Linked DNA regions of Homo sapiens. The protein of the gene in region 5 interacts with the protein of the main gene of each other region in a pairwise test. Each region holds a gene or a part of one and is shown on either strand. Other genes may lie near its edges.

The links.
Region 1: the proteins of CEP126 (region 5) and KIF15 interact in a two-hybrid assay, tested with the Homo sapiens proteins (one large-scale study listed by BioGRID and IntAct).
Region 2: the proteins of CEP126 (region 5) and STAU2 interact in a two-hybrid assay, tested with the Homo sapiens proteins (one large-scale study listed by BioGRID and IntAct).
Region 3: the proteins of CEP126 (region 5) and RAB27A interact in a two-hybrid assay, tested with the Homo sapiens proteins (one large-scale study listed by BioGRID and IntAct).
Region 4: the proteins of CEP126 (region 5) and LPL interact in a two-hybrid assay, tested with the Homo sapiens proteins (one large-scale study listed by BioGRID and IntAct).

Annotation. Positions count from the first base shown.
Region 1 is NC_000003.12:44,796,283-44,799,802, reverse strand, and holds part of KIF15 (kinesin-like protein KIF15), read right to left. Parts: intron 2,253-3,520; coding exon 2,127-2,252; intron 1,970-2,126; coding exon 1,847-1,969; intron 609-1,846; exon of another isoform or gene 515-608; coding exon of another isoform or gene 512-514; intron 1-511. UniProt on the Homo sapiens protein: Plus-end directed kinesin-like motor enzyme involved in mitotic spindle assembly.
Region 2 is NC_000008.11:73,736,841-73,740,360, forward strand, and holds part of STAU2 (double-stranded RNA-binding protein Staufen homolog 2), read right to left. Parts: intron 3,029-3,520; 5' UTR 2,916-3,028; intron 1,510-2,915; 5' UTR 1,462-1,509; coding exon of another isoform or gene 1,444-1,461; intron 1-1,443. UniProt on the Homo sapiens protein: RNA-binding protein required for the microtubule-dependent transport of neuronal RNA from the cell body to the dendrite.
Region 3 is NC_000015.10:55,230,811-55,234,330, reverse strand, and holds part of RAB27A (ras-related protein Rab-27A), read left to right. Parts: intron 1-3,520. UniProt on the Homo sapiens protein: Small GTPase which cycles between active GTP-bound and inactive GDP-bound states. In its active state, binds to a variety of effector proteins to regulate homeostasis of late endocytic pathway, including endosomal positioning, maturation and secretion.
Region 4 is NC_000008.11:19,959,738-19,963,257, forward strand, and holds part of LPL (lipoprotein lipase precursor), read left to right. Parts: intron 1-1,163; coding exon 1,164-1,346; intron 1,347-2,377; coding exon 2,378-2,482; intron 2,483-3,520. UniProt on the Homo sapiens protein: Key enzyme in triglyceride metabolism.
Region 5 is NC_000011.10:101,917,994-101,921,513, reverse strand, and holds part of CEP126 (centrosomal protein of 126 kDa), read right to left. Parts: intron 1-3,520. UniProt on the Homo sapiens protein: Participates in cytokinesis. Necessary for microtubules and mitotic spindle organization. Involved in primary cilium formation.

The DNA.
Region 1 (3,520 bases), on a different chromosome or scaffold from region 5:
GGAGGGGTTGGTTTGACACTTCCTTTTTTTTTTTTTTTTTAATTTTTTACCACACTAAATGATTATCTTCATTTTCTTAAAGAAATGTCTTATTTAGGACAACTTCTAAAAGGCTAAAGGACTCACAAACAAAATGTGCCACTGTGGGGCAGGATGTCAAGAGTGGGGCAGGTCACACATGTGCGCCACTGCACTCCAGCCTGTTGACAGAGCGAGACTCTATCTCAAAAAAAAAAAAAAAGTTGATTAATTAAAAAAATAAAGCTTTAAAAAGGTCCACAAAGCCTAAAGGGTGATAACGAGTGCCAACAGCTGAGTACCAACCAGGTCAGAGGACTCAGTTGTGAAATACTCAGTACTCCAGCAAGGAAAAAACACCCTGTGACAGCCCCAAGGTCTTCTGTATTCTCGCTGTAAGCCCAATTTGCTCACGGAAAAATTTAAATAGCACATCCTTAAACAAGTCCCAGATACTCTGGCACTTTCCACTGATAGGCTGCAAAGGGCTTACCATTGAGAGTGACTAGTAGAAGGCTCTTGGTTTTGTTCTTTTGTGTGTTAAGCAGCCATTTCCAGTTGCTTCTGATTCTTATGGCCAGCCTCATTACAAGGTACTACTGCACTTCTGACATCACTGTCCCATCAGTGACTTCATAATTCTAATTATTGCTGCAGTTCTATATCTCCAAAGACTTCTAGTAAATCTTAAGAGACTTAGGGTCAGGAAGCTCTAATGATTTTTCCTCCTCATCTTACTAGTACTCCATAGTCCAAGGAAATAAAATAAATGACTAGATCTATAGTCTTCTGATTTACCCAGGGAAAGGGGCAACATGGACCTCCTGATTTACAGCCAGTTGGTCTGAAAGCACAGATAGGACAAGCTGGGGCTTGCAATTGGCATCAGAAGTTGGGCGCAGTCTTGTAGGACTGAGCCCTGAACCTGTGAGATCTCACCCTATCTCCAGACATAAAGTGTCAGGATGGAACTGAATCAGAAGACACTCAGCTGATGTCTGCTGCAGAACTGATTGATTGGCTGTTGGCAGGAAGAAAGACTCACATACTTAATTTGCTTTCCCTTAAGAAAAAATTTGTCAGCTGGGTACAGTGGTTCACACCTGTAATCCCAGCACTTTGAAAGGATGAGGCAGGAGGACTGCTTGAACCTAGGAGTTTGAGACGAGCCTGGGCAACAAAGTGAGATCCTACCTGTACAAAAAATAAAAAAATTAAGGCCAAGGCAGACGGATCACGAGGTCAGGAGATCGAGATCATCCTGGCTAACACGGTGAAATCCCGTCTCTACTAAAAAATACAAAAAATTAGCCGGGCGTGGTGGTGGGCGCCTGTAGTCCCAGCTGAGCAGAGATCGCACCACTGCACTCTAGCCTGGGTGACAGAGCAAGACTCTGTCTCAAAAAAATAAATAAATAAAAAATAAATAAAATAAAAATTAAAAAAATAAAAAAATTAGCCTGGCATGGTGCTGCATGCCTGTAGTTCCAGCTACACAGGAGGCTGAGGCAGGAGGATCGCTTGAGCCCAGGAAGTTGAGGCTAGAGTGAGCTGTGTTTGCACCACTGCACTCCAGCCTGGGTGACACAGCAAGACTGTGTCTCAAAAAAAAAGAAAAAACTAGTCAAGCAATAACAACCATAAGATCTAACCTAGGTCTCTAATTACATGTGTGATATAGAAGGGTAGGAAAGATAAAATAGAAATTTTGCATACAATGAGAAATAAATAAAAGTTAATGTTAATATTAGGGCAATCACAAAAATGGCATACTGTAAGCTTTAGTATTTTTCTCATTTATTTAATGAAGTATACGCCAGTATTTTACCTTGTTTTTAATCAGCTTGGCTCTTTGAGCAAAGTTAAGTGTTGATAGGGTTTCCCCAAAACACCTGGATCCAGGATGAACATTTGCAATTATGGCTGTTTTGGCATTACCTCCAAGGGAATCCTGTTTAATGATAGGAATGAACATATTTTCGGTGAGAAATCACAAGACCTTTTTAAGCAAAGAAAATGTATACTCTTGCCACCAAGGCTGAGAGACTGTCCCACTATCAACTTTAGCATAACCAAAAGGAGCCCAGGAACCCAAGGATCTACTTTACCCGTAGTAAGAAGGTAAGTTTGGAGTCTCTGTAGCAAACATGTCTCTGTTTTCCATTACCCACGTCGACAAGTGCTGTAATCACTTGGCCCAGGCAGCTCAATGATCGATTTATGTTACCTGCTTCCTAAAGTGTTGACGGAAAAGAACAAAAATTTAGGTACGTTGGTTACTCTTTGGTATTTTGAATGAAAATATATCTAGCAGAGGAAAATTCTGGATGAAAAGGCAAGTCAGGGACAATGTTAATAAAGAACAACTATTCAACAAATAAAAAAGAAGTGCTGAACTATCCCTAACCTTTTCCTATTTGATGTACACTGTAATTTTAGTATTAGAAGACAAACACAGGCTGGCACTGTGGCTCATGCTAGTCATCCCAGCACTTTGGGAGGCCGAGGTGGGCAGGTTGCTTGAGCTCAGGAGTTGGATACCAGCCTGGGCAACATGGCAAAACCCCATCTCTACAAAGAAATACAAAAAACTGCTGGGCATGGTGGCACATGCCTGTAGTCCCAGCTACTTGGGAGGCTGAGGTGGGAGGATCACTTGAGCTTGGGAGGTGGAGGTTGCAGTGAGCTGAGATTGTGCCATTGCACTACAACCTGGGTGACAGAGTGAGACCCTCTCTCAAAAACAACAACAAAAAAAGACAAACACAAAAATCATGCAAAGAAAAAAAATATTAATGTCACTTCATGATTGTAATAGTTTGAAACCGAGCTATAAAGACCAGAAAAAAATAGGGAAAAAAAAGCTAGAGTAGTGCATTAATAGGTACTTTTTTCAATCCTTTTATGCTAAAATATTTAAGGGTATAATGCCTAATAACTCACCCATACAGCCCCCAAAGCCACTGATGAACTTATTTGAGGAGAATATTCAGTTTAATTCTGTAAAGGATAATAAAAACTACTTTAAAACAGAAGCTTGGTGGGGGGAAAAAATGAGCTAAATACGTTACATTAGATTTTTACTGTAGGTAGCATATTTTGAAAACTGGGTCTGCAGTGGAAGGAGTATACAAAAAAGAGAAAAAGTCAAAATTATAATGCAAGATGTACTGAATTCAGAGTCACTGCTGTTATCATTCAGTAAATCAGAAAGGTGGTTAGTGGCATGGTTGAGAGTACTGTAGCAGCTCGGTTTGAATCTCAGCTCTACCTTTATTAGCTGTGTGACTTCGGTTTCTTTAACTGTAAAATAGAAAGAATAGCACCTACTTCCCAGAGTTGTTGGGAAGGTTAAATGAATTAATATATGTAAAGCATTTTAGAACAGACTTGGTATATGTCCTATTATAAGCATATGCTTTTTTTGACACAGAGTCTCACTCTGTCACCCAGGTTGGAGCACAGTGGCACAATCACAGCTCACTGCAATCTCGACCTCCTG
Region 2 (3,520 bases), on a different chromosome or scaffold from region 5:
CTATATGTCGGAAGGCAGGGGGTCAAGATTACTTTCTTTTTTTGGAACGCATCTCGCTCTGTAGCCCAGGCTGGAGTGCAGTGGTGTGATCTCAGCTCACTGCAACCTCCGTCTGCTGGGTTCAAGCAACTCTTCTGCCTCAGCCTCCCAAGTAGCTGGGACTACAGGTGTGCACCACCATGACTGGCTGATTTTTTTGTATTTTTAGTAAAGATGGGGTTTCACCATGTTGGCCATGCTGGTCTTGATCTCCTGATCTCAGGTGATCTACCTGCCTTCGTCTCCCAAAGTGCTGGGATTACAGGCGTGAGCGACCACGCCTGGCCAAGATTACTTTTGTTTTTTTTTTGAGACAGTCTCACTCTTTTTGCCCAGGGTGGAGTGCAATGGCACGATCTTGGCTCACCGCAACCTCCGCCTCCCGGGTTCAAGTGATTCTCCTGCCTCAGCCTCCCGAGTAGCTGGGATTACAGGCACGCACCACCATGCCTGGCTAATTTTGTATTTTTTAGTAGAGACGGGGTTTCCCCATGTTGGCCAGGCTGGTCTCGGACTCCCGACCTCAGGTGATCTGCCCGCCTTGGCCTCCCAAAGTGCTGGGATTACAGGTGTGAGCCACCGTGCCCAGTCGATTACTTTCTTAATCACAGGGGAAAAGAAAAAAAGTTTAATTACTTCTCTGTTGATTTGCAATCAAAAGAAATAAAAGTATTTTGTTTCTTTCCTTTTTTTTTTTTTTGTTTTTAAGAGACAGGGTCTTACTACGTTACCCAGTCTGGCTCAAACTCCTGGGCTCAAGAGATCCTCCCACCTCACCTCAGAAAGTGCTGGGACTACAGGTTTGAGCCACCCAGCCTGGCCAAAAGTATTTTCTAACACTATAGTTATGATACAATGTTCTATTTGATCGGGAAAGGTAAAATTAAATGTATAAAGTTCTTGGAGAAACGTCAAGAACTAAGAAAAGCACTTCTTTCAGTGAGTCTAAAGTATTAAATGCTGTAGTTTATCAGGGCACTTCCTTCTAGTGTTTTTCAGTGCCCTGGAAAGTGAACTTTAAAAAAAAAAAAAAAACAGATACAACTACTTCACAAGATTTGTCACTAAAAATGCTTTGAGTCTGCAGAACTGCCACCTACTGAAGCTGTATCATGATCATAAGCATTCTGAACACATTAACAAGTCCTAAAGGGATGTGACATCAAGAAGAACAGACAAACCTTCTGCCTTGCACAACCAGAAGTTATCAACTTTCAGAAGATCATTCTAATCCTTAAACAACCTGCCCTACACAGCCTCCAATGATGACTATACAGTAGGTAACTGCTTTAAAAAGTGATGAGTCAGGTTACAGTTATAGAAAAGAAAAGCTGAGTTAAAATGTTCCACAATTTACAGCCAAAGCACCATGTAAGCATGAAAAATGCCTTAACACAAACTCACCTGATTTATTTGAAGCATGTTAAGACAATATTGACCAAACTGCTGTATCCCTCACGGCTCCAAAAACTGGAAAACGAAAATGAAGAAATAAAGTTCAACTTAGCTGATAACCTCAATGACTGGTATTTTAAACACATGCCCTTGATCAAAATCAAATATAAAATGTAATTTATCCAGATCTCCATAGAACTTTCTATGATGATAAAAATGTTCTGTACTTGCACTGTCCAATCTGGAAGTCATTAGCCACATGTGGCTACTGAGCACTTGAAATGTGGCTAGAGCAATCAAGAAAATAATATTTAATTTTCTTTCATGTTCACTTGAATAACTACGTCACTAGTAGCCACCATACTGGACAGTACAGATCTGAACAAAGCTCCTTCTGCTTCTAGACTTCTAAGACAATCCCAACAAAAGTGAAGCTGTTAAAAATAAATCTGAGAGTTTCAGGTTAATATTTAATGTATACTTCCCTTTTTGCAGTCCTGTTTTAAACAGCTTTGTTCCCATCTTCTATACGATAAATTAATCCTAAAGAAGATGCAACACCACAAGTATTCTCTTAGATGGTATGGAAAAGAGCATATAGTACAATTATCTTGCTGAATAGTTTCTTTTTCTCTGTCATTTTGTCTGTTATCATCAGTATAAAAATAGTATGTATATTAAAATTTCAGGCTGGGCGTGGTAATCCCAGCATTTTGGGAGGCCAAGGTGGGTGGATCATTTGAGTTCAGGAGTTCGGGACCAGCCTGGCCAACATGGTGAAAACCCTGCCTCTACCAAAAATACAAAAATTAGCCAGGCATGGTGGCGCGTGCCTGTAATCTCAGCTACTCAGGAGGCTGAGGCAGGAGAATTGCTTGAACCCAGGAGGCAGAGGTTGCAGTGAGCCGAGATTGCGCCATTGCACTCCAGCCTAGGCGACAGAGCGAGACTCCATCTCAAAAAAAAAAAAAAAAAAAATTTTAATTTGAAAACAGATGCCAATGAAGGGCAGGAAAGTCCAAATTACAAATAAATAAATCATGGGATCTTGTAATGAAAAAAAGTTTATATAAAATATAAATTATATACAGACCTCTCCCCTAAAAATTATCTAAAGCAACAACACAATTGTGATACACAGCAAAAGGCCTATATCTAATCACCTGTATAGAAACTGTTATGCTGCTAAATTTTAATATTGAACTTTCCCCTGGAAGCAAACGTTTTGTAAGTACACACATACATACACAAACACACACCCATATTTGGCTACCATTTTTTCAAGATGACAAACTAGAGTCCATTCAAAATGACTTTGAAAACTTTAATATTTTTCTTACAATAGTGTCCTCAGCATCTGCATCAATTTTTATTTATTTTCTAATTACTGTCACATTTCCTATGAGAACGGGATGCTGTATAAAGAGCACACGGCCTGGATATTGGTGAATTTGAGTTTTAGTCAAAGTTCTTCAGATTACCTTCTGAGCCTTGGTTCAAATTACTTTGTGTATCTTTGAGTTCTTCTTTTTCTGTCTTCTTTTTTTTCTTCAATCTTTAAAAAGTAAGCTAAAGTCCTTGTGGTAGGCAGCCTCTAACAAATAGAATATAGCAGAAATAATGAGATACCACTTCCAAGATTAGGTTATAAAAATTCTTAGGTGTCACCTTCTCTCACTCATTTGCTCAGAGGGAGGCAGATGCCAAACTGTGGTGCCCTTTGGAGAGGCCCATATGGCAAAGAACTGAGAAAAGCCTCTGGCCAACAGCCAGCAACAATTGATTTCTTCAGTCCAAGAGCCCCAGGAAACTGAACCCTGCAAGAGCCACATGAATGAGTTCAGAAACAGATCTTCCACCAGTAGAGCTTCCAGATGTGACTGCAACCCCAACTGACAGCTTGACTACCACCTCTTTTATGAGCCACAGGCACCCAGCTAAGCTGCACCCAGATTTCTAACCCACAGAAACTGTAAGATAATGTTTGTTGTCTTAAGTCCTTAAATTCTGGTGCAATGTGCTATGCAACAATAAATAAGACTATCCTGTCCAACTCTATAATTCAATATTCCCATGGTGCTTTAGG
Region 3 (3,520 bases), on a different chromosome or scaffold from region 5:
AGGGTGAGGTTGGAGTAGGAGTGGGGAATGCCAGTAGTGAATGTGATGTTCTGCAGAATGTTGAAGGGAGAAACTTTTATTTATTTATTTTTTAAGGACTTTGAGACTGAAAGTTATTCTAGTGTTGGAGGGGAAGGCAGAAGGTCATGGTGTCACAGTTGCAGATGAGGAAAGATGGCTTTCTCCTTAGACTACATTTCTTGTTGAAAAATCCATTGTTGGCCTGAAGCAGGTAAACCAGTTGTCAGGAAATTAATGACAAAGGTCCTTTAATGGATCATATTCTGTCAGGGGGAAAGGTCCCTGGCTTTTAAGACAGAAGAACATTCCCTTTTGCCCATTCTAGTATTTTATTCTACTACCAGAGAGGCTTATAGAGATTAAGACCCACTGAATAACAGTAGGGCCCTAATGAAATTTTTAGTATTGACGTGTAGTTGATAGAATCTACATATATGTATGTGATTATTTTTGTTGGTTACTTATTGTATAACTTAAAAAATAGATTTGTTGAGATATAATTCACAAAAAAAGGAAATCCATCCATCTAAAGTATAAAATTCGGTGGTTTTTAATATATTCGGAGTTGTGTGGCCATCACAGCCATTCAATTTTAGAATAGTTTCATCACTTTAAAAAGAAACCTCATACCTATTAGCAGGCATTCCTCTTTCTACCTCCCCTTAGCCACCATGAATTTTCTATCAATGGCTTCTGCACACACCATATAAATGGAATAATATATGGCCTTTTGTGTCTGGCTTCTTACATTCAGCCTGATGTTTTCAAGGATCTTCCATGTTGTAGCATGTATCAGGACTTCATTACTTATTATAGCTACATAATATTCTATTGTATTGATACACCATTTTGTTTATCCATTTGTCTGTTGATAGATACTGTTGTTTCTTTTTCTATTTTCTAGTGCATCATTTTAATTCCCTTTTTTGTTATATGTTTTTGAGTTCTTTTTTAAAAATTCCCTTGGGGATTACAATTATCTTAATTTTTCACAATCTAATTTTGATTAATAGCAACTTAATTTTAATACTGTGTAAAACTTTGCTCTTATGTGGCTCTGTTTTCTCCCATATTTTTGTGCCATTATTGCTATACGAATGACATCTTTCTACATTGTGTGCCATCATCAATACAGCTTTACAATTATTGCTGTATGCAGTTAATTTTTTTTTCTTTTTTCTTTTTGAGACAGGGTCTCTCTCTGTTGCTCAGACTGGAGTGCAGTGGTGAGATCTCAGCTCACCGCAACCTCTGTCTCCCAGGTTCAAGTGATTCTCCTGCCTCAGTCTCCCAAGTAGCTAGGATTACAGGCACCCGCCACCACACCCGGCTAATTGTTTATATTTTTAGTAGTAATGGGGTTTTGCCATGTTGGCCAGGCTGGTCTCGAACTCCTGGCCTCAAGTGATCCACCCATCTTAGCCTCCCAAAGTGCTGAGGGATTACAGGCATGAGCTATCACTCCCAGCCTGCAGTTAAATTTTAATCTAGTGGAGGAAAAGGGCTACAAAGAAAAACCACGTTTATACTGTTTTTTATATTTACTATGCAGTTACATTTTTACTGGTGCTTATTATTTCTTTGTGTGGATTTAAGTTACTGTCTAGTTTCCTTTCAGCTTAGTCTTGAGAGTTGTCTGTAGTATTTCTTGTAGGATAGGTCTGCTAGAGATGACTTTTCTCAGTTTTGTCTTAATTTATCCTTTAATTTTAGAGGACCGCTATGTTACTGATTTTTAAGTTCTTTGAATATATTTATAATTCCTGATGTAAAGTCTTTGTCTAATAAGTTTAACATCTGGGCCTCCTCAGGAATAATTTCTATTCGTTGTTTTTTTCCTGCGCATGAGCCATACTTTCCTGTTTCTTTGTGTGTCTTATACGTTTTGCTGAAAACTGGACATTTAAAATAATGTGTCTATTCTAGAAACTCAGATTCTTTCCCCTACCTGGGTTTCTTGTTTTTACTGCATATTTATTTATTTTTGTCGTTGCTGTTTGTTTAATTATGTTTCTGGGATAATTCTGCAAAATCTGTATTCTTTGTATGCAGCTACTGAAGTCTCTGCTCAGTCAACTTAGTGGACAGCTAATGAGTGGAGAGAGTTTATTAAATTCCTTGAACTAATAAGTCTCTTAGCTTTTTCTGAGAGTCTCTGTGTGTTTGTTGGGGTATGTGTTTAATACTACTGCAGGCAGTTTACAACTCTGCCTTAGCTTTTATTTTCTGCCTGAGAAGAACCTCAAAGTCAGTCAGAAGTGAGAGATTAGGACCTTTTTAGATCTTTCCTGGGCATTTGTAGAGCCCTGCCCATGAACATGGCCTTTTAGGTTCCAAGGAATATTTGGGAGCATTATAGAAATCTCATTTCCTATTTTTTTCTTTAAATTTTTTTTTTGTTGTTGTTGTTAGACTTTTGTTAGCCCTAACTGGTATTGCTACCTCTGGTAGCTGTGATGTTAAATAATTACTGCTGATAGTTTTCAACAAATGCCCTTGGGATAGGGCTGTTCTCAAAGAGCAAGCTTTGAGTGAGGTCAAAGAAAGACAAAGCTGGGGCATGGAGCTTTCCAAGGGGCTTCCTGACAATTTTTCTCAGTATGGGACTTTTAGGGAGCTCCAAACCTGTTGTTCCTCTGCTGTCCACAGTGGTGGCTAGGCTGATGTTTTCACAACAACCACATTTGTGCACATGGTTTTTAAGTCTTCTAAAAGCTTGAGTGAGGGGGATGGGAATAGGGCAAGGTAAAAAACACCTCAAAGCTTACTGTTTTTACTGATATTCGGCTGTTTTTCTTGAATAAATGCTCCTTGGAATGTTGCAAGTCTTTGTTAATTCCTAGAGTACTGAAAAAGTTGATTTGGACAATTTTTACCACTGTTTTTGTTGCTATTGTGGAGGAAGAAATTTTTGATGGTCCGTTCTCTGCTGTTCTAGGAGTGTTGTCTATAAAATTCTTTTAAGAGCACTTTTAAAATTTGGGATGGGACAAGGGAAAATTGTTCTACCAAAAATACATCTGCACTCAAATGTTTATTGCAGCACTATTCACAATAGCAAAGTCATGGAACTAACCCTAGGTGCTTATCAGTGGTGGATTGGATAGAGAAAATGTGGTACATATACATCATAGAATACTATGCAGCCATAAAAAAGTGAAATTATGTCTTTTGCAGCAACATGGATAGAGCTGGGGACCATTATCCTCAGTGAATTAATGCAGAAACAGAAAATCAAATGCCACATGCATTCTCACTTATAAGTGGGAACTAAACAATGGGTACGCATGGACATAAAGACAGAAACAGTAGACACTAGGGACTCCAAAAGGGGGAAGGGAGTGGGAGAGGGGCTGAAAAACTACTTATTGGGTACTACATTCACTGTTTGGGTGATGAATTCAATAGATGCTCAAACCCCAGCATTATGCAATCTATCTACGTAACAAGCCTGCACATGTACCCCCTGGTTAAACAAACAAAAAAGATGAGATTGGGA
Region 4 (3,520 bases), on a different chromosome or scaffold from region 5:
AAATATAAGTAGTAAGAAGTCCATGACAAAGTGTTAGCTCTTTTTTTTTTTTTTTTTTTTTTTTTTTTTGAGATGGAGTCTCTCTCTATTGCCCAGGCTGGAGTGCAGTGATTCGATCTCAGCTCACTGCAACCTCTACCTCCCGAGTTCAAACAATTCTTCTGTCTCAGCCTCCCGAGTAGCTGGGGCTGCAGGTGCCCACCACCATGCCCAGCTAATTTTTGTATTTTTAGTAGCGACAGGGTCTCACCATGTTGGCCAAGCTGGTCTTGAATTCCTGATCTCAGGTGATCCACCCGCCTCGGCCTCCCAAAGTGCTGGGATTACAGGTGTGAGCCACCATGCCCAGCCTACCCTTTACTACTAATCAAAGAAATAAAAGTAAGGCAACTTGATACTTTTACAATTACTAGATGAACAAATCTTTAAAAATAGCCAGTGCAGACAAGGTGGTGAAGCAGAACATGCGAACCTACCATGCATCATTCACGGCTAGAACCCTCCAGGTGCGGAAGGTAGTATTTTAATAACTTTCCATAGCTACAAAATATTATTACATAGAAGGGAGTGATTTTTTTCTAATATTTATCCTAAAGAAATAGTCAACAAACATTTTTAAAAACATCAATTACAGTCGTACCTATACTAGCATAAATTAGAAACCCAGTATCCAACATTGAGGCAGTGGGTAAATGAATCGTGGTTTATCAAGTCATTAAAATCAATCTAGCCTTTAAAAACTATAATTGTAGGAAACCCAGGAAAACATAGTAAAAAATGGAATATAAAATCTGAAGAGAATAAAGAATAGAGAATCGTATGTGTGCTATGATTGTAGCTAAATAATGTTCAAGTATCAACACAAATTGAAAAGGAATACATGAAAATGAAAATTATATTTCTGAATGATTGACTTCAGGATTTTCTTTTAGAATTGTATTAAATAGTTCATGTCATTAGGATAAATGCTGGAATGTGGATATAATTTAAAATATACTAAATGCCATCGACCTTCATTTTGAGTTCTTTGTTGGACATTTTTGTGCATTTTTAAAATATCCCCTAAATAATAAAGCTATTTATATTTGGAGAGGAGAAAAAAAAGTGGGGGGCAGGGAGAGCTGATCTCTATAACTAACCAAATTTATTGCTTTTTTGTTTAGGCCTGAAGTTTCCACAAATAAGACCTACTCCTTCCTAATTTACACAGAGGTAGATATTGGAGAACTACTCATGTTGAAGCTCAAATGGAAGAGTGATTCATACTTTAGCTGGTCAGACTGGTGGAGCAGTCCCGGCTTCGCCATTCAGAAGATCAGAGTAAAAGCAGGAGAGACTCAGAAAAAGTAATTAAATGTATTTTTCTTCCTTCACTTTAGACCCCCACCTGATGTCAGGACCTAGGGGCTGTATTTCAGGGGCCTTCACAATTCAGGGAGAGCTTTAGGAAACCTTGTATTTATTACTGTATGATGTAGATTTTCTTTAGGAGTCTTCTTTTATTTTCTTATTTTTGGGGGGCAGGGGGGGGGAAGTGACAGTATTTTTGTATTTCATGTAAGGAAAACATAAGCCCTGAATCGCTCACAGTTATTCAGTGAGAGCTGGGATTAGAAGTCAGGAATCTCAGCTTCTCATTTGGCACTGTTTCTTGTAAGTACAAAATAGTTAGGGAACAAACCTCCGAGATGCTACCTGGATAATCAAAGATTCAAACCAACCTCTTCAAGAAGGGTGAGATTCCAAGATAATCTCAACCTGTCTCCGCAGCCCCACCCATGTGTACCCATAAAATGAATTACACAGAGATCGCTATAGGATTTAAAGCTTTTATACTAAATGTGCTGGGATTTTGCAAACTATAGTGTGCTGTTATTGTTAATTTAAAAAAACTCTAAGTTAGGATTGACAAATTATTTCTCTTTAGTCATTTGCTTGTATCACCAAAGAAGCAAACAAACAAACAAAAAAAAAAAGAAAAAGATCTTGGGGATGGAAATGTTATAAAGAATCTTTTTTACACTAGCAATGTCTAGCTGAAGGCAGATGCCCTAATTCCTTAATGCAGATGCTAAGAGATGGCAGAGTTGATCTTTTATCATCTCTTGGTGAAAGCCCAGTAACATAAGACTGCTCTAGGCTGTCTGCATGCCTGTCTATCTAAATTAACTAGCTTGGTTGCTGAACACCAGGTTAGGCTCTCAAATTACCCTCTGATTCTGATGTGGCCTGAGTGTGACAGTTAATTATTGGGAATATCAAAACAATTACCCAGCATGATCATGTATTATTTAAACAGTCCTGACAGAACTGTACCTTTGTGAACAGTGCTTTTGATTGTTCTACATGGCATATTCACATCCATTTTCTTCCACAGGGTGATCTTCTGTTCTAGGGAGAAAGTGTCTCATTTGCAGAAAGGAAAGGCACCTGCGGTATTTGTGAAATGCCATGACAAGTCTCTGAATAAGAAGTCAGGCTGGTGAGCATTCTGGGCTAAAGCTGACTGGGCATCCTGAGCTTGCACCCTAAGGGAGGCAGCTTCATGCATTCCTCTTCACCCCATCACCAGCAGCTTGCCCTGACTCATGTGATCAAAGCATTCAATCAGTCTTTCTTAGTCCTTCTGCATATGTATCAAATGGGTCTGTTGCTTTATGCAATACTTCCTCTTTTTTTCTTTCTCCTCTTGTTTCTCCCAGCCCGGACCTTCAACCCAGGCACACATTTTAGGTTTTATTTTACTCCTTGAACTACCCCTGAATCTTCACTTCTCCTTTTTTCTCTACTGCGTCTCTGCTGACTTTGCAGATGCCATCTGCAGAGCATGTAACACAAGTTTAGTAGTTGCCGTTCTGGCTGTGGGTGCAGCTCTTCCCAGGATGTATTCAGGGAAGTAAAAAGATCTCACTGCATCACCTGCAGCCACATAGTTCTTGATTCTCCAAGTGCCAGCATACTCCGGGACACACAGCCAACAGGGCTGCCCCAAGCACCCATCTCAAAACCCTCAAAGCTGCCAAGCAAACAGAATGAGAGTTATAGGAAACTGTTCTCTCTTCTATCTCCAAACAACTCTGTGCCTCTTTCCTACCTGACCTTTAGGGCTAATCCATGTGGCAGCTGTTAGCTGCATCTTTCCAGAGCGTCAGTACTGAGAGGACACTAAGCATGTGACCTTCACTACTCCTGTTCTGAATTCCAGGAATATGCCCTTTTCAACCCTCCACACATCCCCTGCCAGACAGCAAGTGCTAATGGGTTACAGGAACAAAGGGGAGAAATATTAGATCATGTCATACAAGCCAGTGACACAAGAAATGAAGGGAAAGGCTAGACACAGTGTCATCTGGAAACAGGAAAAGCAATTGCTTTTGGTTTGTTCTTTTCCTAGTTTGCATTTGGGACAAATGTATAGAATAAGAATTGCCTTCATGCCTGCAATCCCAGCACTTTGGGAGGCTGAGGCAGGTGGATCACCTGAGGTCAGGAGTTTGAGACCAGCCTGGCCAACGTGGCG
Region 5 (3,520 bases):
CCTGGTCTCGAACTCCTAACCTCAGGTGATCCACCTGCCTCGGCCTCCCATAGTGGTGTGATTACAGGCGTGAGCCACCGTGCTTGGCCTCATTACACAGATATTTGAGTACTTACTAACAAGTTGCCCTCATAGTCATGAATATAAGAAAATGAAATAAGAAGATTGTATTTTACTAATAGAAAGTAGATGGAGTAAATGTTTCACCAGATCCCTTAATCTATAGTAGGAAAGTACATTTTCAAATATTAAACAATCAAATAGCAATATAACTAGAATGGTTAGGAATACAGTTTAGTTATTTACTTAGTGACTTAGTGGTTATAAAAAACCACTAGGAAAACTATGTATAGTCATCTGTGTATCCAGAAGCTTGTCAGAGAAAAAGAGGAATATTTTGGTTATCCTAATCATCTATTCACTTGAAATTTATTTTATAAAATTAAACTCTCCTTAAATAAGTTGTAGCAATATGAGTAATTTCTCCAATTTATTTAGTTGCGTTTTAATTGACATTATTAAGTATCTTTATCAAATTTGTCAGAGTAATTTTCTGTTTTTCATGAGTCTTCTGTTTTTAATGATTTTGAATTAAAAGAAGTTCATTTGGCTGGGCGCAGTGGCTCACACCTGTAATCCCAACAATTTGGGAGGCCAAGGTGGGCAGACTGCTTGAGCCCAGGAGTTTGAGATGAGCCTGGGCAATATGGTGAAACCCCGGCTCTACAAAAAATGCAAAAATCAGCCAGGTGTGGTGGTGTATGCCTGCAGCCCCAGCTACTTGGGAGGCTGATGTGGGAAGATCGCTTGAGCTTGGAGGGGGTTGAGTCTGCAGTGAGCTAAGAACACGCCACTATACTCCAGCCTGGGCAACACAGCGAGACTCTGTCTCAAAAAAAAAAAAAAAAGTTCATTGAATTACCGTGTAATCACATTTAGTACCTCATCATTAGATGTAGAAATATATGAGATTATACTGAAGTTATAGATTGTAGGGCATATCTATTTGTCTTTTTTAGAACAAACAGCTTGTTTAAAAACTTTTTACGCTAAGATGGAGGTCCAAAATTCTCTTTAAAGGCTGCATTTAATCAAGATTGTAAAAATCTCATAAATTGATTATTAATGGTAAAACAGAATACTAGAAATACACTCAATAATAAACTATGCGGTACATAATTTGTTAATTCAACATGTTAATTTCAGGATCCTATAGTGCTTCAGCATCAATATTATAAAGAAACTCTATTATTACATATTTCAGAATAACAGGTTTATTTGAACATTTTGTTGTTTAGACCTTTGCTGATGGGGGCTTATTTGTTTTCTTTTGTGTTGCTATTTAACCATCTTTATACCATAGGCCATAATTCATTTTACCTTCATTTTAAATAAAATTTTACACTACTTCAAGACAAAGACCCAAACACACTCACAAACATATTTTTACTTAAAGATTTCTTTTAAAGGATTTATAAAAATCAAACCAAAAGGGAAGAAAATTTGGTTCTTTGCTAGCACAGAAAAACTGTTTTTCTCTGATAGAATATTTTAACAAGAGCCAGACTTCAACAAGATGTCTAGGTATTAAAAGTGACAACTCGGCAGTAAAGAAAAGTGCAACTTCCTTTCAGGGTGCACAGGGCCAACATGAGGTTGAGGGGAGGAAGATGCTTTGGCTTAAGTGAGAAGCAAGGAGGAGACAGTTCTGTTCTCTGTTTGACATGTTTGAAGTCTCATCACGACAGCATAAAGAAAATCACAAATGTAATGTTTGTAATGTTCTGACAACTATATAGTCTTCAATTTAACCAAATGATTTTCTACTTTCTTTATATATAAGTATAATAGTATAGTATGTTTCCTGCTGAATTATTAATTATTAATATAAAGAATCCTGCTGCTTTTGTATCATTTCAAATATGGTATTCAAGTTTAAAAAAATTAGATGGCTGGTTAAATTTTGTTTTTTTATACAAGCTGTATGGTAAAGGTAGGAGTTCCATAAAAAAAACACTGCTAAATACCTGTCCAAAAGAAGGGAATTTTTATATACTTAACATTAAAAAAACAAAACCAAGAATAATATGTATTGTAACATGTGATTTTAAAGCATAGCTTATTCTACCCCACTCTATCCTCACTTCTCCTCTCCCAACTTAGTCTTTTATCCAGTTAGGTTGTTTAAAATGTTGCCATCACAAATAACTATGTATTATATAACCCATTTTTTCCCCAAATCTATTAAAGCTATGTTGATTCGATTTTTCCTCTACTGTACCTTCTTCCTCTCCCTTAACTCAGGTACTCTAAATCCCTTGCTTGGACGACTACAGTGCTCCTCTAATTCTTCTTACTCTAAACCTCTATTTGAACCTACACAAAGTCAGCTAAATGCAAATCTGATTGTGTTTCTCTTTGTTGTTCTCCAAAAGCTCCCTATCACCTTCATGAAAAATTCCAAAGTTCTTGGACCTATATATAAACCATTCTATAATATAGTTTGTTTTTTCAACTTTATTTCTTAACATTTCCCTGTATGAATCCTATGTCCAGACGCACTAAGATAATTATAAACAGAACAACCCGTGATGTATCATACCATTATCTCTTGGCACATGCTTGGCTAACTCTACTCATCCTTTCAGGGCCATCTCAAGCAGTTCGTTCTACCTTGAAGCCTTTTCTAACCTCCACTAGATGACTTGATGACACCTTCATGAGTACATGATAAGTGTCTTCTCTACATTTCTGTAACTCTCACGCCTGGCATGGTTCTTAGAATATAGTAATGATTTAATAAAAACCTCCTGAATTATTCCCTTGGAGAAAATTCTCTGGGGTAGATATGAGGACAAAAGGCATATGCATTTTTATATCTTTTAGTGCATTATAGAAAACTTGGCTCCTAAGGGGGTTATACAAAAGTATATGCCATTAGAAATGTATTATGTACCTAAGTTTCAAAATCTCATGAGCATGGGGCAGTACCTTTTAGAAACACAAGGTACAAAACTATGTTTTATTATGTATGTATTAGCAAAATACAATTTATTTATTTATTTATAGACAGGGTCTCACTCTGTTGCCTAGGCTGGAGTGCAGTGGCATAATCTCGGCTCACTGCAACCTCCACCTCGCAGTCTCAAGCAATCTTCCTGCCTCAGCCTCTTAAGTAGATGGTACTACAAGCATGCACCACAACACACAGCTAATTTTTGTATTTTTTGTAGAGATATGGTTTCACCACGTTGCCCAGGCTGGTTTCGAACTCCTGGACTCAAGCAATCTGCCTACCTCGGCCTCCCAAAGTGCTAGGATTACAGATGTGAGCCACTGGGCCCAGCTGAATGGGTTCACTTCACTTTCTATAGTAAAAGTAAGATCCCATCAGTGAGCCTGGGGGGAAAAAAAGACAGGTGGGTGGGAGTGTGTGTGTTTGTGCTGTTTGTTGGAACAGACCTGTCAGGGCATCCAAGTCTTATCAAGTGGTAAGACAGTCTATCGAGTGTGATGGAAG